Linked DNA regions of Homo sapiens. The protein of the gene in region 4 purifies or fractionates together with the protein of the main gene of each other region. This does not show direct contact. Each region holds a gene or a part of one and is shown on either strand. Other genes may lie near its edges. The genes, in order: LACRT, CST4, SCGB1D1 and SLC25A10.

Evidence for each region.
Region 1: the proteins of SLC25A10 (region 4) and LACRT purify together in Homo sapiens (affinity purification with mass spectrometry; 3 studies listed by BioGRID and IntAct, with this or other methods). This does not show direct contact.
Region 2: the proteins of SLC25A10 (region 4) and CST4 purify together in Homo sapiens (affinity purification with mass spectrometry; 3 studies listed by BioGRID and IntAct, with this or other methods). This does not show direct contact.
Region 3: the proteins of SLC25A10 (region 4) and SCGB1D1 purify together in Homo sapiens (affinity purification with mass spectrometry; 3 studies listed by BioGRID and IntAct, with this or other methods). This does not show direct contact.

The regions. Positions count from the first base shown.
Region 1 is NC_000012.12:54,631,890-54,639,026, reverse strand, and holds the start of LACRT (extracellular glycoprotein lacritin precursor), read left to right. Parts: upstream 1-4,131; 5' UTR 4,132-4,185; coding exon 4,186-4,243; intron 4,244-5,793; coding exon 5,794-5,847; intron 5,848-6,645; coding exon 6,646-6,786; intron 6,787-7,137. UniProt on the Homo sapiens protein: Modulates secretion by lacrimal acinar cells.
Region 2 is NC_000020.11:23,686,036-23,692,887, forward strand, and holds the start of CST4 (cystatin-S precursor), read right to left. Parts: upstream 3,004-6,852; 5' UTR 2,935-3,003; coding exon 2,707-2,934; intron 1,167-2,706; coding exon 1,053-1,166; intron 1-1,052. UniProt on the Homo sapiens protein: This protein strongly inhibits papain and ficin, partially inhibits stem bromelain and bovine cathepsin C, but does not inhibit porcine cathepsin B or clostripain. Papain is inhibited non-competitively.
Region 3 is NC_000011.10:62,185,615-62,193,224, reverse strand, and holds the start of SCGB1D1 (secretoglobin family 1D member 1 precursor), read right to left. Parts: upstream 3,010-7,610; 5' UTR 2,941-3,009; coding exon 2,886-2,940; intron 1,170-2,885; coding exon 982-1,169; intron 1-981. UniProt on the Homo sapiens protein: May bind androgens and other steroids, may also bind estramustine, a chemotherapeutic agent used for prostate cancer. May be under transcriptional regulation of steroid hormones.
Region 4 is NC_000017.11:81,708,362-81,715,293, reverse strand, and holds the start of SLC25A10 (mitochondrial dicarboxylate carrier), read right to left. Parts: upstream 3,011-6,932; 5' UTR 2,868-3,010; coding exon 2,775-2,867; intron 2,026-2,774; exon of another isoform or gene 1,788-2,025; intron 342-1,787; coding exon 222-341; intron 1-221. UniProt on the Homo sapiens protein: Catalyzes the electroneutral exchange or flux of physiologically important metabolites such as dicarboxylates (malonate, malate, succinate), inorganic sulfur-containing anions, and phosphate, across mitochondrial inner membrane.

The DNA.
Region 1 (7,137 bases), on a different chromosome or scaffold from region 4:
GTAAAAGCATTCCTATTTCTCCACATCCTCTCCAGCACCTGTTGTTTCCTGACTTTTTAATTATTGCCATTCTAACTACTGTGAGATGATATCTCATTGTGGTTTTGATTTGCATTTCTCTGATGGCCAGTGATGATGAGCATTTTTTCATGTGTCTGCTGGCTGCATAAATCTCTTCTTTTCAAAAGTGTCTGTCCATATCCTTTGCCCACTTTTTGATGGGGTTGTTTGATTTTTTCTTGTAAATTTGTTTAAGTTCTTTGTAGATTCTGGATATTAGCCCTTTGTCAGATGGGTAGATTGCAAAAATTTTCTCCCATTCTGTAGGCTGCCTGTTCACTCTGATGGTAGTTTCTTTTGCTGTGCAGAAGCTCTTTAGTTTAATTAGATCCCATTTGTCTATTTTGGCTTTTGTTGCCATTGCTTTTGGTGTTTTAGTCATGAAGTACTTGCCCATGCCTATGTCCTGAATGGTATTGCCCAGGTTTTCTTCTAGGGTTTTTATGGTTTTAGGTCTAACATTTAAGTCTTTAATCTATCTTGAATTAATTTTTGTATAAGGTGTAAGGAAGGGATCCAGTTTCAGCTTTCTACATATGGCTAGCCAGTTTTCCCAGCACCATTTATTAAATAAGGAATCCTTTCCCCATTTCTTGTTTTTGTCAGGTTTGTCAAAGATCAGATGGTTGTAGATGTGTGGTGTTATTTCTGAGGCCTCTGTTCTGTTCCATTGGTCTATATCTGTTTTGGCACCAGTACCATGCTGTTTTGGTTACTGTAAGCTTGTAGTATAGTTTGAAGTCAGGTAATGTGATGCCTCCAGCTTTGTTCTTTTTGCTTAGGATTGTCTTGGCAATGCAGGCCCTTTTTTGGTTCCATATGAACTTTAAAGTAGTTTTTTCCACTTCTGTGAAGAAAGTCATTGGTAGCTTGATGGGGATGGCATTGAATCTCTAAATTACCTTGGGCAGTATGGCCATTTTCACGATATTGATTCTTCCTATCCAAGAGCATGGAATGTTCTTCCATTTGTTTGTGTCCTCTTATTTCATTGAGCAGTGGTTTGTGGTTCTCAGGAGGGCTTTTTTTAAAAAAGGTTCTTTAAGGAAAAATGTATCTATTATTTACAGAGATTCAAGTATGGACTAGCAACAGCAGGAAGTCTGAAGCAGCGTGTTGGGGGGTGGGGGTGAATAATGTCACCTGACAACAAGAGATGGCGCTCTGAAACAGGGACCAGACAGAAGCTGCAGTCAGAGAGAAACAGCCATTGCCACACCATGCTGCATTAAGTATCCGTGGCTGTAAAAATTATTCAAACATTTGGTGGCTTCACACATGATTTCTTATCCACAGTTGTTATGGATCAGCAGTCCAGGTACAGATGCGCCCTCAGACACAGAGTCTCTAATGAGGCTGCAGTCAAGGTATCATCGAGGCTGCGGTCACCTCAAAACTCAGCTGAGGAAAGACCCACTTCCAAGCTCAGTCACGTGGTAGCTGGCAGGGTTGAGTTCCTCACAGATAGCTGGACTAAGGGCCTCGGCTCCTTACTGGCTACAGGCTGGAGGCTGTCCTCGGTTTCTTGCCACGTAGGTCTCTCCACAGGACAGCCTCACACATGGCCACTCACTTCATCAGAGCAAGCTGAGAAGATCCAGAGACAGAGTGTGTGTAAACAAGACTAAAGTCATAGTCTCAGAACTGACTACCTCATCACTTTGCCATCTTCTATTTGTTAGGAGTGAATCTCGAGACCCAGCCCAGTTAAGCAGAGGAAATTACAGCAGGGCACCAATGCCAAGACGTAGGCATCACCAGGAGCTATCTCTGAAGTCGTCCTACCACACATGCCAAAGCAAGAGAGGGAGCAGGAGGAACAAATGCCTTAATCTCTCCCTTTTCCCACCCTCCCATCTCCCACCTGTGTCTCCCATTGGCCAAACTCAACTCGAAGCTAGAGGGCATGGGAGCCCAGGTGATACAGCCCATAGAGGCATCCTTCCAGACCAGTGCAGAGATGAGAGAGAATAAACCTGAGGCAGAGGGGAGAGAGGTACAACGAGCAGCCCATGAGACAAGACACAGATCAGCGAACTGACAGTCATCATGGAGGTCAGATAACCTAGAAAACAAGACATCACACAGAGCAGCCCCTCACCCATATCCATGAGGTCCGTCAAGACATTGCACAGAGCAGCCTCTCACCCATATCCATGAGGTCTGCCTCTTTAATCTATGCACCCAATTCTTTCCCAGGCTCTATAATTTGGGGTAACATTTCTCTGGGCCCTGTTATAGAATAATGAAAATTTTCTATAAAACAAATGTCCTTACTTTCACCTCATCCCTATTTATGTAAATGCTTGCCTCTTTAATTACTGAGGCCAGGAGGAAGATTTGGGAGAGGAAAGGGCTATGCGGTGACATTTGGAAAGACCCTGCTCTGTGACAGTTCTAGTGTTGACGCCAAAGTTCTCATTTCCTCTTAGAAAAGTCTTGTGCAAATAGCATAATTTGCTCCTGTTGACTTTTTTAATGTGCTCATGGAGACTGCTCGGGATCTAGATCTGTTTGGGATCTGCAGGACTTCTCCTTCTGCAGTGTACACACACGTGCACACACGTATGTGCACATACCCAGGGCACTGGTGCCATCAAAACTTTCTCTTGTTCTTCAGCCTTCCCCATTCCAGGTAAGGCCACCACCACCTTCAAGGCTCCCAGGCCCAGACCCTCAGGCAGGTAGCAATTGCCAAGGCTTTAATGTCCCACCCCATTAATTTTATCTTCCTTTATCTCCTGAAAAGATTAATGTTCTAAACCCTGGCACCCAAAACACCCTCATGTTGAAAACTCTTCAATACCCCCTTCTCACACTCATCTTCAGAGCTACCATGAGGCAGAGAAGCCTCCGGAATCAGCCCACATGGGGCTGGGTGAATGCCAACACCAAGCAAGGGGAAAGTCACAAATTGACATCCAGCACCTTATTCTCCACCCTTCAGCCCCTCAACTGACTCCTGCTCCACGGCCCGTTCTATTAATATCTAGCATTTAGCACCAGCCTGGACAAAAACCTACTTGGAAAGATGGTACAAGAACCCCACACAACTCCATAGAACTTCGCTGTCTAAAAAAATGCTTTGCCGTATATTATCCCACTTAATCTCCACCACTATGCTGTACATAGGAGCCACAACTCCTAGACAACAAATAAAAATCCTATCACTTTTCAAATCCTAACATTTTCATATGACAAAGCCAGAACTCAAAATCCAGACCTCTAGAGTCCCAGATCAGGAAAGGAAGAAACGCCAAGTCAAAGAGAAGCTTCTTTAGAATAATCTGCTTTTCTGGATTATTCACACCATGGGTCAGCTCCCCACTTGAAGTCAGAACCAAGCTCCAATTTCAGTGAACCACCATCATGCTTTGACCAGGAGATTCTCTCAGAAATGTGGGGTCCCATTGAGTAGGCCTGAAGACAGAGATTGACAGGCCTATGTGAGCCTGGAGGAGTTCTTTTTAGGGGCTGGATAATGTCAAGAACAGAGAACAACTCCAGAGAAGGCACACACGCCTTCAAACCCATCCCCTCATGGGGAGAAAGCAGCCAGGAACTCAGGCCTCAAGTGTTCTAGGTGTGGTCTCCCAAGGAAACGGGCTCACTTAGTTTGGGGAAACCTTCAAACCCTGCACTGAGTCCTATGTAGACTGGGACAGAAGGTGGACAATGTAATCCCCTGAGCCCTCAACCTCCTCCTGGAGAGATGACAAGATTAAGATTTCTCTACCAGAACCCTCAACAGACACATCCCAGAATCTCCCCAAGTGAAATGTGCTCTACCTACCGTCCCTGAGAGCCCAGGGGTGTGAACCCAGAGGGCAGGTGTGGTGGGGAAGGGAGGAGGGAGAAAGAAAAGGGATGGCTGGGAGTTAGAGAAAGGCTCCTATCCAGGACCTGCCTGCAAGGATCCCAGGTATCAGCCAGCCCAACCTAGCCCTTGTTGACTTAGCAGGTGACAGTTTGGGGAAGAAGGGGAGGAGGATGCGGAAGTCACACCTCTCCAGGCTTGGTTCCCATTGGCCCTTGATATCCTTAAAAGGGCCCAGCAATTTCAGCATCCTTATTCCCCAGACCTTCTGCAGATTCTGTGGTTATACTCACTCCTCATCCCAAAGAATGAAATTTACCACTCTCCTCTTCTTGGCAGCTGTAGCAGGGGCCCTGGTCTATGCTGGTGAGTATGGCCTTTCCTCTGCGCCCCACAAGAGTCCTCCCAGTCCAAGGAGCCCCTCACTCCTGCCTTCACCCCTCTCCTCCTCTCTCAGTGCTATTCTGGTTTCCCTGCCTCTGCAAGTGACTCCTCTCCCAGTTCTCCACACGTGGCCTCTGCACCCCACTGGCCAGAGGAACCCAGAACTCTCTGGCCTCTGCCTGCCCTCCCAGCTCATCTCCTCACACACCATTGTTTACCCACTATGCCTCAGCTACACTGGCTTCTCTGGTGTCCCCTGCATGTAGTTGAGCAGGGTGTCCCCTACACGAGGGTGCCCAGGCAAGGAGTGGTAGAAGCTAAAATCTGGCCGACACTCTACTTGCCAAGCAGTGAGCCTGGCCCCTGGCTGTGTCTCTTAGGAGGAAGGGATGCCTTTTTTTTTTTTTTTTTTTTGAGACCGAGTCTCCCTCTGTTGCCCAGGCTGGAGTGCAGTGGCACGATCTCTGCTCACTGCAACATCCACCTCCTGGGTTCCAGCGATTATCTTGCCTCAGCCTCCTGGGTAGCTGGGACTACAGGCTCATGCCACCTTGCCCAGCTAATTTTGTATTTTTAGTAGAGACGGTGTTTCACCATGTTGGCCAGGTTGGTCTCGAACTCCTGACCTCAGGTGATCCGACTGCCTTGGCCTCCCAAAGTGTTGGAATTACAGGCGTGAGCCACCGTGCCCTGCTGGGATGCCTTTTTTGATCCACAGAAGCACTATTTGGGCCATGATGATCCTGCTGTTCCTTGAACATCAGGATCTTCCTTCTTGTCCTTTCCTCGTCTAGAATGCTTTCCCTCTCCCTGGCCCCTTCCCCCAACCAACTCTAATGTCACCTGGCCAATGATTTTTCATCTAGAAAATCTCAGTTTACATATAATTCCCCAAAAAGGCCTTCCATGCACATGCGGAACAAATCAGATCCATGTGCCCTTCTCGCACCAGGCTGCACGTTCCCTTCCAGCACTGTCACACCAGCCATTAAATAATTTCGTAAAAGGACAGATGTAAGCTCTGTCAGGGCAGGGGTCTTGTCTGCCCTCTTCAGCACTGCACCTCCATCTCTTGGCACAGAGCTTTGCATAAATGTTGTGTTGAAAGAATAAAGGGAATCAAGGCTGGGGTCTCAATCCTGCAAATCGCTCAAATATGGCCCCATAACCCCCACATACTGTCCTCCTCCACCACAGAGGAGGTTGAGCCCCTCTGACCATGGCCAGCTCCATGACAGACACCTCAGGGAAGCCTACCAAGCCAGGGGCCAGTCAGGAGGAAGGCACTGTTCCAAGAGACATTACACTTCTCAGAGGGGAAGTTATTTCAAAAGCCACAGGAGTTAAACATCAGAGAGTGCCCCAGTAGACCCGCTGATATGGTGGAAGGGCATGTCCAACCCAAAGGGAAATTGATCCCCTTCTATCCATGAGCATTCCCAGGAGATAAGCTTTGGGAATGGGAGGGGAGGGTGGCTCGAGTAGGTCCGGTTCGGTCCTTGCTCTCATCTGGCATGTTTCCCCCATTGCAGAAGATGCCTCCTCTGACTCGACGGGTGCTGATCCTGCCCAGGAAGCTGGGACCTGTGAGTCCTCCTCTCCCTGCTGCCCTAGCCCTCGTTGGGAAGGTTTAACAGTTAGGGATGTGAGTGGTGGCTGGGAGAAGAAGCCAGTGGGAGGAGATCTGGATTCTGTGCTTGGTGGTAATGGGGAGGGGCAGGTAATATAATAAAGAAGGTGGCATGGGTTGAAATGGTACAAGGCTAAGGACAAAAGAGGATGACCCAGAGAGGCAAGGACAATAGGGAGCATGGGGAAAAGGTTATTGTGAATAAAAGGGAGAGAAACATGAGGTTAAGTGGTAAGGGCAATGTCTCACATGGCATTAATACCTTCACCTGCAAACACCTCCCATTACTCCCAATTCCTTAGCAAGATAACCATTATCTGGCCTCTAACCTCATTTTCCAACCCCATTTTCCATGACTCTCTTTTATGTCGCACCCACATCAGCTAAATTGAACTTGTTTCCATTCCCCACACATGCCTTCGCCTGACCTCTTACTCACTGCCTGCCCCCAGGGAAGCCCCTTTGGTACATCCTCTCCTGCTAACATCCTGCCTTCAAGATCCAGCTTCTCTATGAAGTGCTCCCCGATTCTCACCATCCCCTAGTCCAAATCCTTCCCCAACCCTGCCCGCTGCATTCCAAGAGACACACAGCATGCAGAAATGCTATCTCCCTTAAGGGGGCAGCGTTTAAGCCATATCACTTCTGTATCCTGGCACCCAGCACACATTAGGTATCCTGGGGCCCTGCAACCCATTCCAAAAGAAACAAACACTTTCACTTTGCTAAAATCCATCAATTTGTGCATTCACAGCTAAGCCTAATGAAGAGATCTCAGGTCCAGCAGAACCAGCTTCACCCCCAGAGACAACCACAACAGCCCAGGAGACTTCGGCGGCAGCAGTTCAGGGGACAGCCAAGGTCACCTCAAGCAGGCAGGAACTAAACCCCCTGAGTAAGTCTCTGTCTCTATGCCAGATCAACAACCTAGAAAAGTCTCTGGCTGCAGGCCCACATCACACCTCCACGCACAGAGATAAGCCTGGTGAGAAGCAGGTAGACTCAAACAGCTGAACACAAAGGCACAAATGGGATTGTGCATTGCACCCACACACAACGTTTTCACAATAGTAGATGTTGCAGCCTGCACAATACATGGTTTCTGTCCTGGCTCACACAACTTCCTATGAGAGAAGTGCTGGAGCCCTCAGCAAAACTTCTGCACTTTAGGACTTTCTGTAGGGATGATGTCCTGGGTGGAGTGGGGGTGGGGGGCGGGTGCAGGTGGGGCAATGCAGAGTTCTCT
Region 2 (6,852 bases), on a different chromosome or scaffold from region 4:
CCAGGCATGAGATGTCACAGCCTGGGTGAGGAGGATGGAGGTGAGACACTGCACCCTCACCCACCCCTGCTGAGTCCCAGAGCACTGAACTAGAATGAGTAGTGACTGTACCATTACCCCTCCCAAGGCTCCAAGTCACCAGGTGGCATTGGGCCCCCACCCCAGCCTGCAGTGTCCTGTCCCATCACAGCCCTGTGAGGAGCAGCCTGGGCAAGGCCTCGGGAGCCCCAAGGGTGCAGGACATGGGGAGGTGGCTCAGTTCCCCCAGCTCCTTCCACCTCCAGCACCCAGGCCAGCACTAAGAGGGGCCAGAGGGAAGAACCCAGGGCAGGGCAACTCCCCCTCAAAGAGCTGGGGCATGGGTCAAGGGCAACAAGGGGAGTGCCGCTCTCCCCTGAGTGGAGACCTCACAAGAACCAGCAGGTTCTTGGAGAGGCTGGTGTTGGGTGAGCCGGGCAGGTCCAGGGCTTCCCAGCTAACAGGCCTCTAGGTCCCACTAATCTGATTGTGGCTTTGGCTGCATGCAGGTGCCTGAGGCTGGGATTAGACAGATCCCCTTCTCCCTGCCCAGCACCCAGCCCCGCAGGTGATTCTTCCTGTCCAACAGGCAACACCCCAAAGCAGGCAGTTGACCTTCTAGTAACCATTCCCAAGCTAAAGCCTTCCTAGCAAATCAAACACATCACCCCCTCCCTCACCACCCCATCTGCACACACATAGGCAACTACGTAAACTCACTTGGACCCCTCATCCCCATGGATCTATGTACAAACCCCCATACTTCCGCCACACACCCACACACAGGCACACATGCTTCCATACACCTACCCGCACACACTGGCACATGTGTGTACACACGTGCACCTTTCCACATGCACACCTACATGCACACCCCCCCATAAGTACATGAACACGTACACATCCATGCATACACGGCTCCCCACATACCCACCTGCACACACACACCGTCCAAACATGGGTAGGACAGAGGCTGACACATACGCACCCCTCTGCAGTGCATGACTGGCCCGGGACCCGCATCAGGAACGTACCTTCTGCAGTTCTGGCTGTTCATGGAAGGCACAGGTGTCCAAGTTGGGCTGGGACTTGGTACATATGGTGCGGCCCACCTCTACGTCGAAGAAGTAATTCACCCCCCCAAAGGTCTGCACACAGGAGAAAACAGGAAGCACGGACAGCGCCCCCATCAGTTCATGCACTCACAGGCACTTCACTGTGGCTGAGTCACTGGACTTGCTTGGGGGCTTCGTGAGCTGCCCACATGTCAACACAAGGCACACAAGCCCCCTCTTCCTGTCAGCTGGCAGGGTGCTGAGCCTCATGCCCGCTCTTAAACATCGTTTTCTCTGTGCTGGGTAAGAGGATTCATTGAATTCTGCTACCTGTGGCTCAGGGGTGAGGGAACACTGACTCTTTTCTAGGAAGGCTGTCTGATGACAAAATTTCAGCTAACTCACGAAAATCTTATTCCCTCCATTTAACCTAGATTTATTACTTCACTTAGAGTAGGAAATGAGATGCTTCACACACACAGATATTTTGGGTCAATGGGGCCGCCCAGATGCCACCATTTCAAGTGTGAGGTTCAAGATACGTTTCTCAAGTCAGCAGCACACCTGAGTGTCTTACAATTGCAGATTATAATTGAACCCTTTCCCTGCACAGGGCCTCTCCCAGACACTACGTGGCAGAGCTGTGGAGAAACCTGGGATGAGGGACTCTTTGGAACCAGGAGGAACTGCTGAGATCCCTCGAGTATCAGTTTACCCATGTATAAAATAGGCTTCCAGGTCTGATGGTCTGCAATGCCCTGTGCTTCACTCCAAGTTACTGTCATGCTTAAGAGGGAGATGCAGGCCAGCGGGGACCATGGCACCAGGGAGTGCACCTCCTGTGCAGGGTGAGGGCTCCAGCTGACAGCTGTAGGAGGAGAAACGGGACTGGTCTGGATTCCTTTGAATTTCTAGAAGGTGGAGGAGCTCTAAAGGCTGTGTCACTATTTGCTGCTCTGCCATGGGATGCAGGTCAAGCTGGGCCCAGTTGCCCTGCTGAAGCTCACTCTGGACCTAACCCCTCCTCTGCTCTGCTGGGTGACTGCTGTCCTCATCTGGCTGAGGTCTAACTCTGCATCAGCTCGTAGAGGCAGGGCCAGGCGTGCTCCACCCCAGCAGGGACTCAGCCATCCTGGCCTGCAGGGGTGGGTCAGCCTGCCTGAGGGTGAAGGCCACTAGCCCTAAGGGGCTGTGCCCAAGGGCATGACTTGGGGAAGGAAGAAGGGCTCTGCAGAACAGGGAGCCAGGTTCCCATGTGGCCCCTGAGGAGAGGACTCAGGGAGGAGAATGAGCCTCACCGCCTGGATCTCATCCTGAGCAGCATCAAGCCCACCCAGAGTCAGCACAGTCTCCATCCACACCTGCTGGACGCTGGGAAATGCCACGGTCATGGTACAGACACAGCAGCTGCTGCAGGTTAAAGGAAGCTGCAGCACTTCCTTTAACTGTCTGCAGTGCATGGACCGGGAGCATGCTTAGGCATGAAGGGCATCAGCGGAGAGTCAGAGAAAGCTGAATGAATCTGAGCATTAGATCATGAATGTGTCAGTGTTGATTTGCTTGGAATGCTCTTGGGGGTCCGGCAACAAACCAGGCTAGGGCTCAGGACCCCTCGGGTGGAGGCAGCACCCACCTGCTCCCTGGCTCGCAGCACCTGCAGCGGGCGTCTGTAGTACTCATCTTCGGTGGCCTTGTTGTACTCGCTGATGGCGAAGTGAAGGGCACGCTGTACCCACTCATCATTGAGGTCTGCATCATAGATGCCACCTGGGATTATCCTATTCTCCTCCTTGGAGCTCGAGGCCAGAGCCCCAGCCAGGGTAGCCATCAGGAGTAGCAGGGTACACAGAGGCCGGGCCATGGTCTCCTCAGAGGCAGAGCACAAAGCTGGAGCTGCAGGAGAGGAGGGTGAGAGCCCGAGGCAGGGAGCCCAGACCAGCAGGCAGGTGTGCATTTATCCTGCTTTGGCAGCCCAGCCCCACCCACCTCCATGCCCTGCCCCTGACTCCTCCTCCTCTTTCTGCCCATCCCCTCTTTCTCCATCTCTCTTTTCACTCCCCCACCACTACAAGCTCCCTCCCTGCCTAAGTTCCCCCTGCCCCTCCCAGGCCTCCTCCTCCATCTCCCCCTCCTCCCCACTCCAGTCCTCACTGCAGCCTCCCTGAGCCATGCCTCTCTTCCCCAGTGCTCCCAAGCTTGAGTCACCCAGGTCTCCACAGAGGTGACACTGGTCCTTTGACTGTGAAAGCAATGTGACTTCCTGTTTGCTCAGAAAGGGGAAAAATACAGGGCTTGGCCTCCCGGGGTCTTCAGATATCAGAGGCTTCCAGGAGCACTTGGTCACGGTCTCTGAATCTCTGGAACAGAGAGGTTATTTCAGAAGGTTCCAGAAGACCCTGTCCACACCCTAATATGGAGAATTTCTTTGCCAAATTTAAGGGAATTAACCTTTTTGGAAAAGGTCACTGGCTTCTGTTTTCATAACTCATTATTCAATAAACAAACCTATCACCAGTTACTGCCCATGCCAGGAGGTCTAGGGCTTGAAGACGGAACCTGGATGATGAGCCATAGAGGTGACATTGCAGAGCTGCTGCCCACAGAGATGTGACATGAACCCACAAGCATTTGAAAATTTCTAGTAGATGCATTTTAAAAGATGAGAATAAATGGGTGAAAGTAATGTTTAAAATATTTATTTAACCTAATATAGCCACAATATTATTTCAGCTAACGGGAACAATTATTAATGAGATCGTTTATGTGTGTTTTTTTTTTTTGGTTTTGTAAATCTTTGAAATTCCCTGTGTATTTTTTACACTTAGCCCAGGAATCATTTTGGACTGGCCCCATTTCAAGTGTCCTGTGGCACATGTGGCTGGTGGCTGTGGAACTGCACAGTAAATTCCTACACAGTGTGTGTAGAGGATGGTAGGTTACGATCAACAATTAGGATCAGGGAGTTATACTCACTCTGTTGGAAGTGAAATAGAACAGGGGCTAGAGAGAGACCACTGGACCCTGGTCAGGGTGGTCTCTATGAGACTGGAGAGGTTGAGCAGCCCCAGGCAGCGGGGAACAGCCAGTGCAAAGGCCCTGAGGTGGGGTTGGGACATGCCTGCTCCAGGAAGAGGAAGCTCCTGGAGGGGATGTGAGCAAGGGAGGAAACCACCTGGAGTCTCACGGTAACTGTGGGTGAGGACCGGTGGAAGGTGCACGGAGACCCCTGTGAGGCAGTGGGGGTGTCAGGAGAGGGAGCAGCAGCCACGGGATGAATGTGGGAACCCACAGGCCTCTCTTGCTTCTCTCCTAGGCAGCCATGCTTCAGGCTCCTTTCCTCTGTGCACTCCTTGGAAGACTCACGTGGCATTTTAAAAATTGCCTTAAATGAGGTAGAATTTACATACAATAAAATGCCTAATAGTATGTGCCCAATCTGGGGGATTTCATAAATGCATACACTTGTGTTACCACTTTGTCCAGACCTGTGACATCTGCCTTGCCCCAGACGGTATCCTCCTGCCTCTCCAGCCACCCTCGTGCCCGCCCCACCCTGGCAGCCCCCATCCGGCCCTGTAGACACCTTTGTCGCCTGTCCTTGAGCTTCCCAGGAATGGAGTCCTGCAGAGCGAGCCCTGATGTGTCTTCATCCTTTGCTCAGTGTGGCTTTCCAGCGGCACCTGAGTTGCTTCATTGCCAAGACTGTGAGTTCTCCTTCTCCACAGACTGAGAGGATGTGGTCAGTTGGGTGTCCTGTGGGCTGACAAAGCCCCCAGCTTGGGATGCTGTGGGCCTGGGCTGGAATGTGTCTCCAGGAGTGGGGAGGGTGGAAGGAGGCTCTGAACAGACAGCTGCTCTCGTTGTTCTCTCAACCCCACCCTCCATGCCTGAAGGTGACCCTGTGGCAAATGCCCTTATGGGGAGGTGGCAGGCTTGGCCAGAAACTCCAGGAAACCCTGGGCCTTAGCAGGACACCCAGAGGACTGTCTTGGGAGTGGTGGAGGTGAGGGTTGGCCAGTGTCAGCCCAGACCTGTTTAGAACACTAAACAATACTATAATAAACAAATGACCAAGCGCAGAAAGCATCACGTAAAGGTGCAAGTGATGAGGACAAGCTGGCCAAGAGTCATCCTGGGCTCGGACATGTCTGGGGATGGATCAGCAGGAACCTGGCAGCAGGAACCATATTACTTATGGGTGCTCATGTTCAGTATTACGACAGGGAACCTTGTTACCTGAGTCCTGGTGACCATCTCACCCCACTGTGAATCCAGCACCCCTAGAATAGCCATGAAGCCTGGCAGATACAGCAGGTGTCCCCATGGTGTTTACTGCTGGGTGAGGGAGGGAAGGTCTTCAAACAGAGCTTTACATATGCCTCCTAGTTAGACAGGAAATGGGGAGAGATTCCCAGAGAAGGGAAAGAGAGGGAAGTCCCTTACCAGGTGTTTGTGAGCAGAATGGTCATCTCCAAAGGGTAGGAGTTAGTTCTCCTCTGTGTCTCCCACCTTCCTGGGACAGCTGGGAGTCCAGACTCAGGAAGACATACATGCTGTGCAAAGGGTAAACTGAAAGTCAAGCAATCCTCTTGTTTTTTTTTTTTTTTTTTTTTTAATCATCAGAAAGGAGATGCAGGTAACCCAAATAGCGAGAATGTGCTGGTGGGTGGAGTGTGAGGGAGGGAGGCCAGAGTGCTGACCTGTGCCCCATATGTGATGACACCACCAGTGGTCATCTTCTGTCAGGACTCTGGCATGCACTGCAGGGAGGGTCAGCTGTCCTGATGCAGCAAACTCTCTAATCCCAGTAGGAAAGATACCAATGTAGGTTGCTCTTAGGAGGAGGTACAAGTGCGATGTCCAGTATGGAGTTATAGGAAGTGGCAGGTTGAGGTAGCTGGCCAGCTGCTCCAGATATTTGATGACCTTAGGTAAATGTTGTGTCTGTCGTGCATCTGGAGAAAGAGGCTACTTTCTAAAGCATAGTTTCTGGGATTTCAGACCAGCAGAGATGAGCGGACTTCAGTAGCGGTGTATAAACATGTTTGAAAATGATGGAGTAGCCAGGTGTGATGGTGCACATGTAATCCTAGCTAATTAGGAGAGTGAGTCAGGAAGATTCCTTGAGTCTAGAAGTTCAATTTCAGCCTGTGTAACACAGTGAAACCCCTATCTCAAAAAAAATGACAGAAGACTTTGATTTCTATAGTCCACAGTTTTAAGGACACACTAGGAGGGGGCCAGATAGCAACCATGGACTGAGGAACAAGCTTGGGGCCTCCAGCACCCATGTAACCTGGAGGAGTCCAGCTGCCCAGGAGGGGGCATGTTTTCCTTCTGCCAGGTGACGAAAGAGAAAGCTGTGTTCCCCTAGGCTGCATGGTGACTACTGATCCGATTATCTGAATTAGTAGGATGAGAAATTAGGTGACAGGCAGAAGTTCTCTGCAATAAATGACCAATAATAAGTGAACACTAAACAATACTATAATAAACAAATGGCCAAGCTCAGAAAGCATCACCTAAAGGTTCAAGTGGTGAGGACAAGCTGGCCAAGAGTTGAGATTCTGCACATCTGGGTTTTGAGCAACTAACAGTTTGGTCTATGGTAGGAGCTGGGACTGAGCAGCCACAGGATTTGGTGACTTCTCAAATGGGAAGGCCAGGAGTCTCCTTTATGGAGTGCCTGGAATTCTCTGGGGTCAAGCTCGTCTCTTTCACTCCATCCCTCCTTCTTTTCTCCCTCTCCTCACACATGGTGGACACGTGGATGCTTCTA
Region 3 (7,610 bases), on a different chromosome or scaffold from region 4:
CCAGGCCAATAGCCCTGGGGGGACACAAGCATAAGGCCCAGGGTCCTCATAGAGGGGGGACAGAGCAGAGCAGCAAGAGGTTATTGTCTGGGCTGTCCCAGGACTTGGAGTCTCCTGTTCCCCGCAATGAAAGACCCAGTGCTGAGAGGTTGGTCAGGGCTGGGAGGGCCTCTGGGAAGCTTGGCTTCCAGGAGACTCCAGCCTCCCCATGTGGGAATTCTGCCTCAGGGCCTGAGCACCTCAATCCTGAGCCTGCAGCTTCCATGAGCATTTGCAGCTAAACCTCAGGACAGCAACCCAGAGGCAGCCAGGCTGAGAGGCCCCTGGAAAACCTCTGATTTCTTGAGAAAGACAGAGTGAGAACATCCCGCTTCCATGGCACTGCAGGAGGTAGAGTAGCGAGGGTCTTGGCCCACTGGCCGTGGTCAGGAGAGCATCGTGGGTGAGGAGGGGAGCGTGGAGTCTGAGGAGCTGGGAGGGGCTCCTTCCTGGTTCTGCAGAAGCTGCAGAGAAGTCCAGCCCTCCAGCGCAGCATCTGCAGGAGCCCCTGCTCTAGGTCCCTCCCTGCCTTCTTCTCCCTGTTCAAGGCTCCCACACTCCCCAGTACATTCCACAGTGACTGTGTGAGGTCCACTTGGCCTCAGGAAAGTCCCCAGGTGGAGAGACAGTTGTGCTTGGCCCTTCACCACCCCTGCCTGGACCCAGGCTCACTCCCCATGTCCTCAGCACACTCTGGGGACACGGCATCCAGGTAGGTGACCTGAGAAGGAGGAACATGCAGGAGGCTGTGTGCAGCTGAGTTGAATTCTGCAGGTGAAATGGTAGCACCCACCCTGTGGTCCCAGGTGACCTTCTCAAGCGGTGACCAGTAAGGCAGGTGCCCCACCACCTGTGTCCCTCACAGAGCAGCAAGCAAGCTGACCTCACTTCACACTGTGCCGCTGACCAGAAGCCTGGACACATGAAAGAGACAGAAATTACCAATGTTTTTGTAATTAGCACTCTTTTCTCATAGGCCATCGTATCCACGCATTTCTTCACTTCCATCTTGGCTGCAACAGCTTCCAGAGGTGCCTTAAATTTGGCAAGTTGGAACTTGAACACAGGTTTTCCAGCTAATAAGAAGCCTGTGATTTCAGAACCAAGAGCTTGGCAGACCACTGCATTTGCTGGAGCAAAAGAATAAAAATATAATTTGTGTAAGGAAATCAGTGTTTCTCCCATGCCTCCCTGATGTCAGACCAGACAGGAACCCCAGGGTTTTAGGCTTCTATTCAATAACTATGCCAATGACAATGTCAGACCCAGGAGGTTGTGACTTCCTTGAGGTCACACAGCAAAGGGTAGAGCTAGAACTGGAGAACCAACTTCCTGATCACTCATTCAGTCTTTGTTTTTTTTTTAAAGCACACTCATTACTTTCCAAAGCTTCTCTGGATGGATGGCCAACGTTCTCTTTTCTAGATTTGAAAATAATCACTTTTCTATGCCAGTTAAGTGACACTTTATTAGTCTTGGACATTGGTGAAGAGGAGGCTTTGAGTAATCAAATTTTGAAGTGGAATGGTAGAGTCAGAATCCTATCAGAAATTAGAGAAATGAGTAAATCTGGAACAGAAGAAGTTAAAATTATTGAAATGTTGAAGGTGATGTTTTGAGAACAAGTTGTAGAATTTAGGCTTATGTGATTCAATACAGACAGAGCTAAAAGGTAAACAAATTAAAACAAAATAAAATAATGTGAATCAGTTTTAACACACATTAGAAGCTTATACAGGAAATTGTACTTGGCCCATATTCTGCAGCAGCATCTAGAATATTTGGAGAGGATGAGAGGAGGGAACTGAGGCTCATTCCTGCTCCCACTGGGAATTTTGGAAAGACCTGGAGTAATCATTTTGCTTGGTCTGGAATCTCCATTCACCTAAGTCTTTTGCAAACACCATGCATCCAGAAAGCGCCCCACCATGCTCAACATGACCCCTGACTACCCGACTTCAAACTGTGGGGAGAATTTGGAGAGGGTAGGATCGGGGTGTCACAGGGAAACAGGGAGAGGTTCAGAAAAGAAGAGGAAAGAGAAAAATCAGAGTCTGGATCGGTCCTGACAGGGGAAAGGAAAGTACCCAAATGAACTGGGGAAAAATCAGCCAGAATTAATTTTAGAAAAATAGAAGTTCTGAGGCTAACCATTGTAGTATTTCTACCACCATTACGGTAGGACCCCTAGAAGATATATTGAGTGCTGCTTATTCTAAGAATTCATTTGCAGGCTTCTTATTGAGAGAATCAGAAAGCACCATCTCTTCTTGGACTGAGAGTTCTCCAAGGATCCTTCGAGATGTAACATTTTATGAGTCTGAATTTACAATGTAAGAAGCTGTGAGCTCAATTGGCACCTAAAGGTCTGGGGACGAGAATGTCTGACAGTACAGTGATTGGCTTCACATCCACAGCTAGACCCTTGGCACAATAATCCCACTCCATTCCCATTGCCACTCCCGGAAGAAGCTCTAAGCACCAGAGATAGGAGGAGGCGCGGGGAGGGTGAGCATCTTGCCCACGGTGAAAGGGCTGAGAAGTGGCTGAGCCCAGAGTCACCCCAGACCTCACATTACATCATCTGACACAGATCCCATCCAAGAGTGAAGCTCAGGCAGAATTCCTAACGTTCGCCTGCATTGATTTTCTGCAAAACTTCCTAGGTACTGGGGATTTGATGAAATGAGGCCCGAGCTTTATGAGCAGTTCCTTCAACAAGCACAGGATAAGGTTTGGAATTTTGGTTTGTTCCAGACCCCAACCTTAACCTTAATAGGTGACCTCGTGCTCAGAGAAGGGTGTGTCCCAAGGGCTGGTGCTGGACTCATGACTGATGTACTCACCCCGGTAGCAGCAAAGGGCCAGCGTGAGCAGCAGGAGACACACCGACAGCCTCATGGTGGCTTATTCTGCTGTGAGCTCGGCTTTAACCAATGATGAGTGATTTAGACTCAGCCCCGGGAGCCTGTGGAGCCGTGGAGCCCAGGGCTATTTGTACCTAGGGAGCCTGGCTGGTCCTGCCCACATGGGCATCTGGCAGGTGATGAGGCCTGGCTTCCAGCCCTCCCTTCCTAGCCAGGGCTGCTGCCATCCATCAGTGTCACATCCCCACACCTCCCTGCATCCTGAGTGGGGCGGAGCACGGGAGGGCAGCCCTGCAGAAACTCTGCTCTGTGCTCCAGGTGAGTGTCCAGGTGCCTCTGGCAATGTTCCCTGGAACCTCAGTTTGCTTTTGGGCTTTTGAGGATTATCTCTCTGTTCTTTATGTCAGTGCAAGGGCAAATGTGAGTTCTCATTTCAGGAGGACAGAAACCGGGGGTGCAGGAAGCTAGGGGCTGTGGTTTGGTTATAGGAGAGCAGGCACAGAAGAGACCCCACTTTGACCTCCACTGCATGTCTGACAATCAGCCACACGTGTTTCAGCTGCACATAGATCAAGTCTGAACCAGACCTATCCTCCCACTCAGCCCCTTCCATCCCCACCATCTTCACCACATAGGTACCTAAAACATAGCTGCATACACCCCACCTTTGGAGGATTTCCTTGGGGAAAACAACCACTCCCCCTGTCCTCTACTCTGTCTCACTCCAAGATCTGTGTCTTTATTTATGGGTGGAGTTGTCAACATAGCACAGGTTCAAATTTTCTGTCTACTAAAAGCAAGCCTCCAGTGACCTCTAGCCACCCATATCTCCTCATAGGGCTGATGGGATGATTAAATTGCCCAACTTTTTTTACCCAAGGAGCTGCTGGGGTGTCTGGAGGCAAACAGGCATCAGAAATACTGGTCTTCGCTTCTAGGCAGGGACGATAATGGAAAGGAAGAGATGGATGAACAGGGTGGGTGGTCACTTCCCTCTAACCTCTGGGCTCAAGTTTTCCACTTCTAACCCAGCTCTGCTGCCTGGGTCATCTCATTGTTGATGGAAAGCGAAGGCCATCCCCAGCAAAAGCAATAGACACCCTTCTGCCCTTCCACTGCAGTGCCATCATTTGGTGAGTAGGAAATCACCAGAAATTTGGCTCTTAAGTGAACACACATTTGAGAACAGTCACAGCCCAGGCCAGAGCTTTCCATTCTCTGCTCTGCAATCAAATCACTTGGGGCTCTTAAACTATACTGACTCCCCGCAGGCTGCTTCCCTTTCTGGGGATTTTGATTCAGTAGTTCTAGGGCGAGGTCCTCTTCTGTTTAAACTGCTCTGGTGGGTCTGATGGGCAGCAGTACTGAGAACCACCCAGAAAGACCTTTATGAAGGAAGCGGACCTTATGGTCTGTGTCATCAGAGACACCTTGGCAGGTCTGGCTGAGTCCCAGCTGAGGGCGACAATGCCTCTCACTTCCATCACCCAAAATGGTGGGGAAGCCCCTGATGCCACCTCTGCCTCCAACCCTAAGGAGTGGAAGGTCCAGTGGCAAAGCCCATGGCTAGGAGGGTTCAGATCCATGTCTATGGGCTATTGAACCCTCTGAAAATTAGTTTATGTAAACACAGTTTTCTCGTTTGTAAAAGTAGGTTAAAAATGGTGCCTACATCATTGGGTTGATAGATGTTCAAATGAGTGTGTGTGTGTGTGTGTGTGTGTAAAATTTACCAGGTCTGGCCAGGCGCAGTGGCTCACACTTATAATCCCAGCACTTTGGGAGGCCGAGGCGGGTGGATCACCTGAGGTCAGGAGGTTGAGACCAGTCTGGCCAACATGGTGAAACCCCGTCTCTACTAAAAATACAAAAAATTAGCTGGGTGTGGTGGCATGTGCCTATAGTCCCAGCTACTCAGGAGACTGAGGCAGGAGAATCTCTTGAACAAGGGAGGCAGAGTTGTGGTGAGCTGAGATGGCACCACTGCACTCCAGCCTGGGCAACAAGAGCAAAACTCCATCTCAAAAAAGAAAAAAAAATTAACAAGGTCTGACATGTAGTAAACGCTCAATAAATGTTGACTACTATTACCTTGTCCCACCTGTCATACATTTCATGGATCATTACCAGTTCCTAGTTTAAAGCACAGCCAACCCCTCAAAAAAAAAAATCACTGATTTTCAGAACTACAATTCATGGGCCACATAAGGACATATTAGTTAATATCAGACCCCACATACAACAGGGGTCCCCTAAAATTATAATACTGTGTTTTTACTGCACCTTTTCTGTTTTGATATGTTTAGATACACAAATACTTGTCATTGTATTACAACTGCCTACAGTGTTCAGAACAGTAATATGCTGTACAGGTTTGTGGTCCAGGAGCAACAGGCTTACCTATTAATAGCTGAGGTGTGCAGTAGGCTATGCCATCTAGGTTTGTATAACTGCATTTTATGATGTTCACACAATGACAATTGCCTATGCATTTCTCAGAATGTGTCCCAGTCACTAAGTGACACACAACTGTCTAAGGAAACCTGGATACACCCCCACTATCTGAAATAAATGGAGGAAACCCAGCTCATGGTCTCTGAGACTGCAGACCCAGGGACACGAATTTAGGTTCTTACAGATGACAGATGGGTGAGGAATTTTCCATAGCTGTTGAACAGAGCTTTCCTGATGTGGGCTTGGCCTTCATCTGTATATTCCATTAGGAAGGATGTGTATATCTGAAAGAGGATTGCTTCCCACATATTTTTATCATTCCTGTAGCTCTTAACATCTGCTCGGGGCTTTTTCTAGTTTTCATAGGTGGTACTTTTGATGACTGCTCTACTCCTTCCCTGGTTGGCTTAAGATCTTCTCATTTTGGCCGGGCATGGTGGCTCACACCTGTAATCCCAGCGCTTTGGGAGGCCAAGGCAGGTGGATCATTTGAGGCCAGGAGTTCGAGACCAGCCTGGGCAACATACAAGACCTTGTCTCTATAAACAATTTTAAAAATTAGCCAGGCATGGTGGTGGGTGCCTGTATTCACAGCCACTAAAGAGGTTGAGGTGGGAGGATTGCATGAGCCCAGGAGTTTCAGGCTACAGTGAGCCCTGATTATGCCACTGCACTCCAGCCTGGGCAACAGAGCAAGAATTTGTCTCTAAAAACATGAAATAAAATAAAATAAACGTTTTTAATGCAAAAAAAAGTATGTGAAGTGATGGATTTGTTAATTAATTTGATTGTATTTGATGTGTGTATTGTAAACATACATCAAAACATTATATTGTATGCCATAAAAATATACAAGTTTAGGTCAGGCTCAGTGGCTCGTGCCTATAATCACAGCACTTTGGGAGACTGAGGTGGGCAGATTACCTGAGGTCAGGAGTTTGAGACCAGCCTGACCAACATAGCAAAACCTTGTCTCTACTAAAAATACAAAAATTAACTAGGTTTGGTGCTGGGTGTCTGTAATCCCAGCTGCTTGGGAGGCTGAGGCAAGAGAATGGCTTGAACCTGGGAGGCGGAGGTTGCAGTGAGCCAAGATCATACCACTGCACTCCAGCCTGGATGACAGAATGAGACTCTGTCTCAAAAAAAAAATTAAAGAAAAATATATATATACAATTATTATTTGTCTATTTAAATTAAAAAAATTGTATGGAGAGAAACATGATGTTAACAATATTCTCTTCAAACAAAGGGCAAAATTCATATAAAAGATAAATCCATGAACATAAATTGGTCATTATTTATAGATAGTTATTCAACTATCAGGGAAATTTAAGACAATCCACTAGAAAAACTGTCAATATTGATTTGCCACCACAGCTGCCAGCATGCATTCACATGAGCACAGATCCTGCTGCCACTGCTCTGATGAAGTGCTTTGGCAGGGTGTTGTTGCCAGCAGACTGGGAACACCTCCACCTCACCAGCACAGCGGGTGCTTAACCTCAAGGGGCCGGAGAACAAAGCAATGGGCCTGGTACCAGGCCTCCAGGGTTAGAGCAAGCAGCCCAGGAGTGCTGAACTGAACTGAACCTTGGCCTTCTGAAATCTTCCAGAAACAAAGCCCAGTCAACTGAACCCAACTGATACCACAGTCAAACCCTCAAGGGCATCAAAGAATGCAAAAGAAAAAAACCGGGCCGGGTGCAGTGGCTCACACCTGTAATCCCAGCATTTTCGGAGGCCGAGGCAGGCGGATCATGAGGTCAAGAGATCAAGACCATCCTGGCTAACATGGTGAAACTTCGTCTCTAATAAAAATACAAAAATTAGCTGGGCGCGGTGGTGCATGCCTGTAGTCCCAGTTACTTTGGAGGCTGAGGCCCATCCAAGGGACAGCAACTTCAAAGATTAAAAGAACATCAGTCCACTCAGATGAGAAAGAATCAGCACAAAAACTCTGGCAACTCAAAAAGCCAGAGTGTCGTCTTACCTCCAAATGACCACACTAGTTCCCCAGCAATGGTTCTTAATCAGCTCTGTGGGAAAGAGAGTTTCTGGGATGCCAGATGAGTTGGTCTCCCCTGTGTGAGACACCCATGGGAAGCCATGGGTGGCCTTTGAGGAGAAAAGTCTCCTTATTGCCTTCATGTCTTTTTGCCCCTAAAGCATAACAGCTCAGCGGCATTCCAGAGGTTGCTTGGGGAGATAACACTCCCTTGAAGCAGTGGAGTATAATCAAACATCTTG
Region 4 (6,932 bases):
TCACTCCCTGGGCCTCAGCTTCCCCACCAGTAAGTGGCGGTCTCAGGCCCAGCCCTGCAAACTGGGTGGGTGCCCATGGGAGGCGCACCCTGGGGTCACCAGCTCTCGGCCTGGTGGGTCCTTCCTTGCACAAAGTCTTGAAAAGGGGACGGAAGTAGCTTGGATGCCACTGCAGGACTCAGCCCCAGTCTGGGAGCCCAAGGCTGGCACACACCACGCACCTGTCTGCACAGCGAGGCGCTCAGGCCGCTGTAGAGTGCCAGGATGCCGTCGGTACGCACCACCCGCAGCGCCATGCCCGTCATGCGCAGCTTCACCTCCTGCTGCGTCTGCAGATGCACCTGCGGGAGTGAGTGCTCTCAGACCCCACAGCGACCCCGAGGGATCGGTGCCAGGTTCATCCAGAGAGGGGGAAACTGAGGCAGGAGGCAGTGATAAGGCCTCCCACGGCCCTGCCCGGGGACTCCACACCCGTGCCTGGAACCAGCTCACACCACTGCTTTCCAACAGCAACCACACCAGTGGACATGGAGCTGAGAGTGTCCGCGAGCCCCGCGAGCGCCCCGCGTACCACCTGAGTATTGGCTGCACTGGCCGCAGGGGCTCGCCATTCTCCTTCTGCAGATGAGGAAACTGAGGCATGGAGAGGTAACGCACCCGCTGGTGCCATCAGGATTTGGGCCCAGCGAGGAGACCCCAGAGCCCTACTTTTTATCCACCACACCACGTCTCAAGAGGGACAAACGTTTATGGCCGCTCAGAAACGGCGAGGGAGCCTGCAGGACCATGGGAGACTGAGGAGGTAGCCATAGAAGGCCTTGAAAGGCAGCAGGAGCTCAGCAGCAGACAAGGGGACGGTGTGGCTGGCGGCAGGGCATAGCGGCCTCCTCTGCAAAGCACCTAGGAGCTGTGGGCAGGCACTCGGGGGCTGTCAGCCCGACAACCTCCCATTCTGTTGGCCTCCACCACTCACAGGACCTCTGCCTCCTCGCCTGGCCAGCTGAGAGCTCCCGGCAGTAGGGGGATTGGCCAGGGCCAGACAGGAAGGCCAGCACCTGGCCCAGGATCCCAGCTCCTGGGTCCCACCCCCAGCACTGACCCCAAAGAAGTCCTTCCGCCGCTCAGTGTGACCTGCACGTGCGCGGCCCCGTAACGCACGCCCAGGGGTCGGCAAAGATGGGTGGGGACAGAGAGGGGCCTCCCATTGTGCGAGCCCAGCAGAACAGAGGGACTGGGCCACACAGGTAGCAGCCCCCGTCCCGGCCAGATGCGACGGTAGGGACTGTAGGGACATGGGACAAAGTGCTCAAGAAGCTTTAAAAGATCTTTCCGACGGCCAGGCAGAGAGGCCTGGTGAGCAGTCCTCAGGAGCACACCCTGACCACAGCGCCATATGCTGCCAGCAGCTGGCTCCTCCCGCCCTCCCAGGCCAGAGGGCAGTCCCGCCTCCCCCAGGCGGTGTTCTGCAGCCAGAGAGCGCCTGGTTGGGGAGGGCCAAGGGGCAGTGGGGCTCAGACCCCGGACAAGGGACAGCAGCACGCAGGTCCCGCCTTCAACACCCAGATGAACGTGGGAGAGGCCCTGGGGGAGGGGCACCTGTGCGGCGCCCAGGAGGAAAGGAAGAGCCCGATGCCAAGGAGGGGCTCGCTTCTTCTGCCCATGCCAGCGCCTTCCTGTCGCTGTGGCTGCATCTCACTGGCCGTGGCTGCCTGTGGCCTGGGAGCTCTGAAGGCCTCTCCCAGGACCAGTGAGGTCTCAGGTGCCCCAAGACGCCCACATCTGCTCACCTGGCCTTCACGCAGCGACCAGCATTGTTGCTCATTAGTAAAGCCAGTCCCCTCAAAGGCTGCTGGAATACAAGTCCCCTGGACAGGCTGCTAAAATAAAGGTCCCCTAGACAGGCGGCTGCCCAGTGACCACAGCCAGGTTCACAGGGCAGGGCCTGCTGGGCAGACTGTGCAAAGCCTCAGGCCCTTTCTTCTTTGTTCTCTGTGGCAAGACACGGTCAGAAAACAACGCCCCTTGGCTGTCCCTGGGAAACAAGGAGAGCTCTGTCTTATTTTGCCCCATAAGCATTAAAAAAAAAAAAAAAGTAAAAAAACGGTGGCTGCTTCTCGTGCTGAGAAACGCCCGCTTTCATAGGGCCAGGACCACACGCGTGCAGGGTCTCCTGGCATCTCTCCTGGGGGTGTGCTGGTCCTAACATCGCTTCCAGTGCCCACGCAGCTCTCCGAAGGAAGCAGCCCAAAGCCGGGGCATCGGGTCACCCCACTTGCCCAGGGACACGTCCGGCGGTGTGCTAAACACCCCTGGGTGGGGGGCGGCTTGGCCCACACCCTGGGTATGCTACAGCCAGCACGTCTCTAGATGCCAACACCTGTGCACCTCACAGAACTCCCCCCACAACTTCTAACTAGGCGGAAGGAGCGTTCTTGAATGTATGGGGGTGGGTGGCTCAGAGAGGCCAAGTGACTCCCCCAAGGTCACCAGGTATTAAAGTGTAGAGCTGGGGCTGGATCGCCACCTGCCGAGAACTGGGAAGCCGGCTGGGAAGCTGGGGAGCGCGGCTGCGCCCTGCAGGCCTCGAGCTCGGCGGCCACCACTGGAGGGCCACCCGGGATCGGCCATCCGGGCGTCGGGGGCCTCCTCGCGCTCTCCAGGAGGGAGCCCCGGGCGCGGCGATCCCCGGGTGCGTGGGGCCGGGCTGCTGCCTTTGCAGGCGTCTCGGCGGCGCCAGGGTCCCATCCGCCCCGCGTCCCGGGCCCCGGCCTCACCTTGAGCAGGTCCAGCGGGTGCGTGCAGCAGGCGGCCCCGCAGGAGGCCAGCCCCCCGAAGTACCAGCGCGACACGCGCGCCTCGGCTGCCATGGCCCAGGAGAGCCCAATCCCGGCCCGACCACAACCCGACCCCGGCCCTACCCCGGCGTGTACCGGCCGCAGCGCCCCGCGCCCCGCGCCCCGCGCCCGGTTCAAAGCGCCGCCCGCGCGCCCGCACCCCGCACAGCCAATGCGCGCGCGCGCCCCGGGGGCGGGACCGCTAGGCCACGCCCCCTGCGATTGAGGCGGGCCCGGCGCCTTAAAGCGGCCGCGAGGGGCGCCGAGCGCGGTGGGCCCGGCCTGCGGACGCGCGGGTGCTCCGGGGCTGCTGCGTGGCCGCCTCCACTCCCCCGGGCCCCTGGCGTCCTCCCTTCTCCAGGCCGGAGCGCAGGGCCGAAGGCCACCGCCCGGGGACCGGCCCCAGGCACATGGGACCGCGGCGGGCGCCCTGCCAATCCCCAGGAGGCCCGGCCCCTGGCCCTGAACCTGCACCCGGTGGCCACCCCGCCGCGCAGGCGCTGGCTCGTGAGTCACCTGGCGGGGGCCACGTGTGTGCGGCGTGGGCCCTGCGTCCACAGGTCTGCAACCCCTGCCCCCACCGAGGGCTCAGCCCCGGCCCAGCTGCAAGAGAACAGAAAACCGGCTTCGGGAGCCGGGCGCGGTGGCTCACGCCTGTAATCCCAGTTACTCAGGAAGCTGAGGCAGTAGAATCGCTTGAATCCGGGAGGCAGAGGTTGCAGTGAGCTGAGATCGCGCCACTGCACTCCAGCCTGGGCGACAGAGCGAGACTCCATCTCAAAAAAAAAAAAAAAAAAAAGAAAAAGAAAAGAAAAAAAGAACCTGCTTGGGGCCAGACTGAATGAAAACTGGGAAAAAAGGCGGTTAGGAAGGACTTGCCTCTCCCTTCCCACACACAGATGCCCGGAAGCTCCTGCTCAGTTCTGGTCTGGCTCTGACCAGACGCCCCAGGCAACCACCCTGGAAGTGGGGCCCCGGGGTGGATTCTGGGGCTCTTGTTCCCAGGAGATGCCTGCCTGCATCTGGGCCCCTGCTTGGATTCCACTTCCCTGCGAAGAACAAGGAGGCGCTGGTGTGTTCCTGGCCCAGGTGCACCTGCTGGGCAAAATGAAATTTAAGTCCCCAAGGCTGCTTTAGGGCTGGGCCACAGGGATGAAGACCTGCAGCTCCAGCTTGGTCACTGCTGTCCGGCCTCCCCCACCCTCCAGGGCGAAGGGTGAGGAGCACCGGAAAAACAACTCGTGGTCCCTGGAACCCCTCAAGCACCAGAATGTGTCCAGCCCTGCCTCTGCGCATCCAGCGATGCCCTGGCTGTGTCGGAAGCGCAAGACGCACACTTAGGATTTTCAGCTTGGCTGTGGGTTTATTGGGCCGTAACCCCAACGTAGGCAGGTAGCCAACTGGAGGAGACTGTTTTCTAGACCCTTAGGTGGCCTCTGACCCCAGAAGTCATCAGCGGAAGATTTGGGCTGGGGAGTGAGCAGCTAACCAGAGGCGGTACCCCTGCCCGGAAGTGTGTCCTGGACCTTGGTTTGGTTGGGTCCCTCAGGTGTTGCCCACACAGACCGTAACTACCTGGCAATCGAGAAGGGTGCCAGATGGACACTGGGGGTGAAAACACAGCCACGCCTGGTGGGGAAGCGGGTGGAGGTGCTCAGGAGGCAACCAGGAGAGTGCAGTGCAGCACTGCCCGCACCAAGCCTGGGCTGGGGCTCAACAGGAAGCGTGGAGATGGCGCAAATGCACCGCAGGGACTCAGAGGGATCACGCTGGGCTTAAAAGGCCCAGAGCAAACAGACTCAACCGTTAGGAAGCAGGGGAAGTGGCCCGATCTTAACGGAAATTTCCCAGCAAGAGGACAGGCTTCCTTGTCCGGGGCCATCCAGGCTCACACCTGACTGAGTCCCGCAGACTTGGCTGTGCCCACAGCGCCTGTCTCACTCAGTGTAAACCGAGATGAGTTGCATCCATCGGCTCCCGATTACCAAGAATCAAGAGGCGATGGATGGAAACCTTGGGGGAAGCAGGGCCTGGAGGGCCAGTGTCCCCTGAGTCTGTGAGACACTCCAGGAAGGAGGGGGGCGGGCCTGGGCTGCAACCTGTCCCTCCGAAGGCCACCTGCAAGACAGGGCTGAAACTGGCTGCTGGCAGAGACCCCCCAACCCACAGAACACTGGCTCCCTGCTGAAGGAAGAACTGCTCCAAAGCAGAAAGAGCAGGGCCCAGCGGGTAAGGAGCAGGAACTGAAGAGCTTTACAAAGAACAAAAAAGGCTGGGCAGGGCAGCTCTCACCTGTAATCCCAGCACTTTGGGAGGCCAAGGTAGGAGGATCTCTTGAGGCCAGGCGTTTCAGACCAGCCTGCGCAACACAGTGAGACCACATCTCTAAAAAAAATCAAAAGATTAGCCAGGCATGATGGCACGTGCCTATAGTCCCAGCTACCTGGGAGGATGAGGTAGGACGATTGCTTGTGCACAGGAGGCTGAGGCTGCAGTGAGCCTTGATCAGGCCACTGCACTCCAGCTCGGGTGACAGAGTGAGATCGTGTCTATATTAAAAAATAAAAATAGGCCAGGTGTGGTGGCTCACACCTGTAATCCCAGCACTTTGGGAGGCCGAGGTGGGTGATCACCTGGGGTTAGGAATTCGAGACCATCCTGGCCAACGTGGTGAAACGCTGCCTCTACTAAAAATACAAAAATTAGCTGGGTGTTGTGGCGGGCGCCTGTAATCCCAGCTACTAGGGAGGCTAAGGCAGGAGAATCGCTTGAACCTGGGAGGTGGAGGTTGCAGTGAGCCAAGATCGTGCCATTGCACTCCAGCCTGGGTGACAAGAGCAAAACTCACTCAAAAAAAATTAAAATTAAAAAAGATAAAAATAAGGTTCAAGACCAGCCTGGCCAACAGGGTGAAACCCTATCTCTACTAATAAAAATACAAAATTAGCTGGGCGTGGTGGTGCATGCCTGTAATTCCAGCTTCTTGGGAAGGTGAGGCAGGACAATTGCTTGAACCCGGCAGGTGGAGGCTGCAGTGAGCCAAGACTGCACCACCAGCCCAGGTGACAAACTGACACCGTTTCATAAAAATAAATACATAAATAAGTAAATAAAACATTAAAAAAAATAGAACAAAAGTGCAAGGAGCTGTAGGGGACTGAAGTTTGTGAACTCCGTGAGCTAGAGATGCTGGGAGAGCAGTCAGAAGGCGAGGAATCCTGAAAACAGGAAATGCATCCAGGGCCAGAGGCTTTTTCAAATGATGAATCTAGAACTGCAGGTCGGGGACTCACAAGGATCCCTGATGGATTCTCAAACGGATCATAAGTTATGTCGGTAGGCCCAAGGGGGTGGTTGGGGCAGACTGAGCAAGCTCACGGGACAGGGCTCCCCGTCCAGCCTCCGACTGCGGCCTGGCATCCACCGCAGTGTCCTGCTGCTTGGCATCCACAGGTTATTTTGGGGGTCCCCCGGCAGGGAGGAAAGGGCCTCTCGGTGGCTCCTGCGAGTGGCCTGGCAGACGCCTGAGCCAGGGTAGACAGCGAGGAGTCGCGGGCAGAGATTTTGCTGGTCTATCTGGCCTGGGTGCAGCCTGGATGAAGACAGCATGTCTGTCTGACCTCAAGCAGGGCTCGTCCCTGAGCTCAGATGTTCGCTGCCTTCCAGAGGGGAAAGGCAGTTGGGGTCAGCAGGGCACCAGGCAGAATGCACCCAGCTCCAGGTGGCAGTGTCACCTCCTGAGGGAAGACCATTAACCCCTCAAAATGGATACCATGGCCAATGGGGACTTCCAGGCTTGGCTTGGGACAGCCTTTCCTGGGGACAGCAGGTTAGTCAGAGAAACTCTACCAGAAGGCCTTGGAAGAGGACCTGGGCCAGGCAGGGTGTACACGCACAGTGAGCCTGAAACTCCCTGCCCCTCCCGCTCCCCCAGGAGTCCCAGCCAGTGGGCAGCTTCCAGACACACGGTGCCCCTTTCTGGTCCCATCCAAGGGATCCTTCCACCAGGAAAACTGAGGCTGGAGGGCATGGCAGCCTACGGGGCCATCACACCAGGCATGTTTCCCGAAGCAGGTGCGGAACATGGCCTGTCTCTGG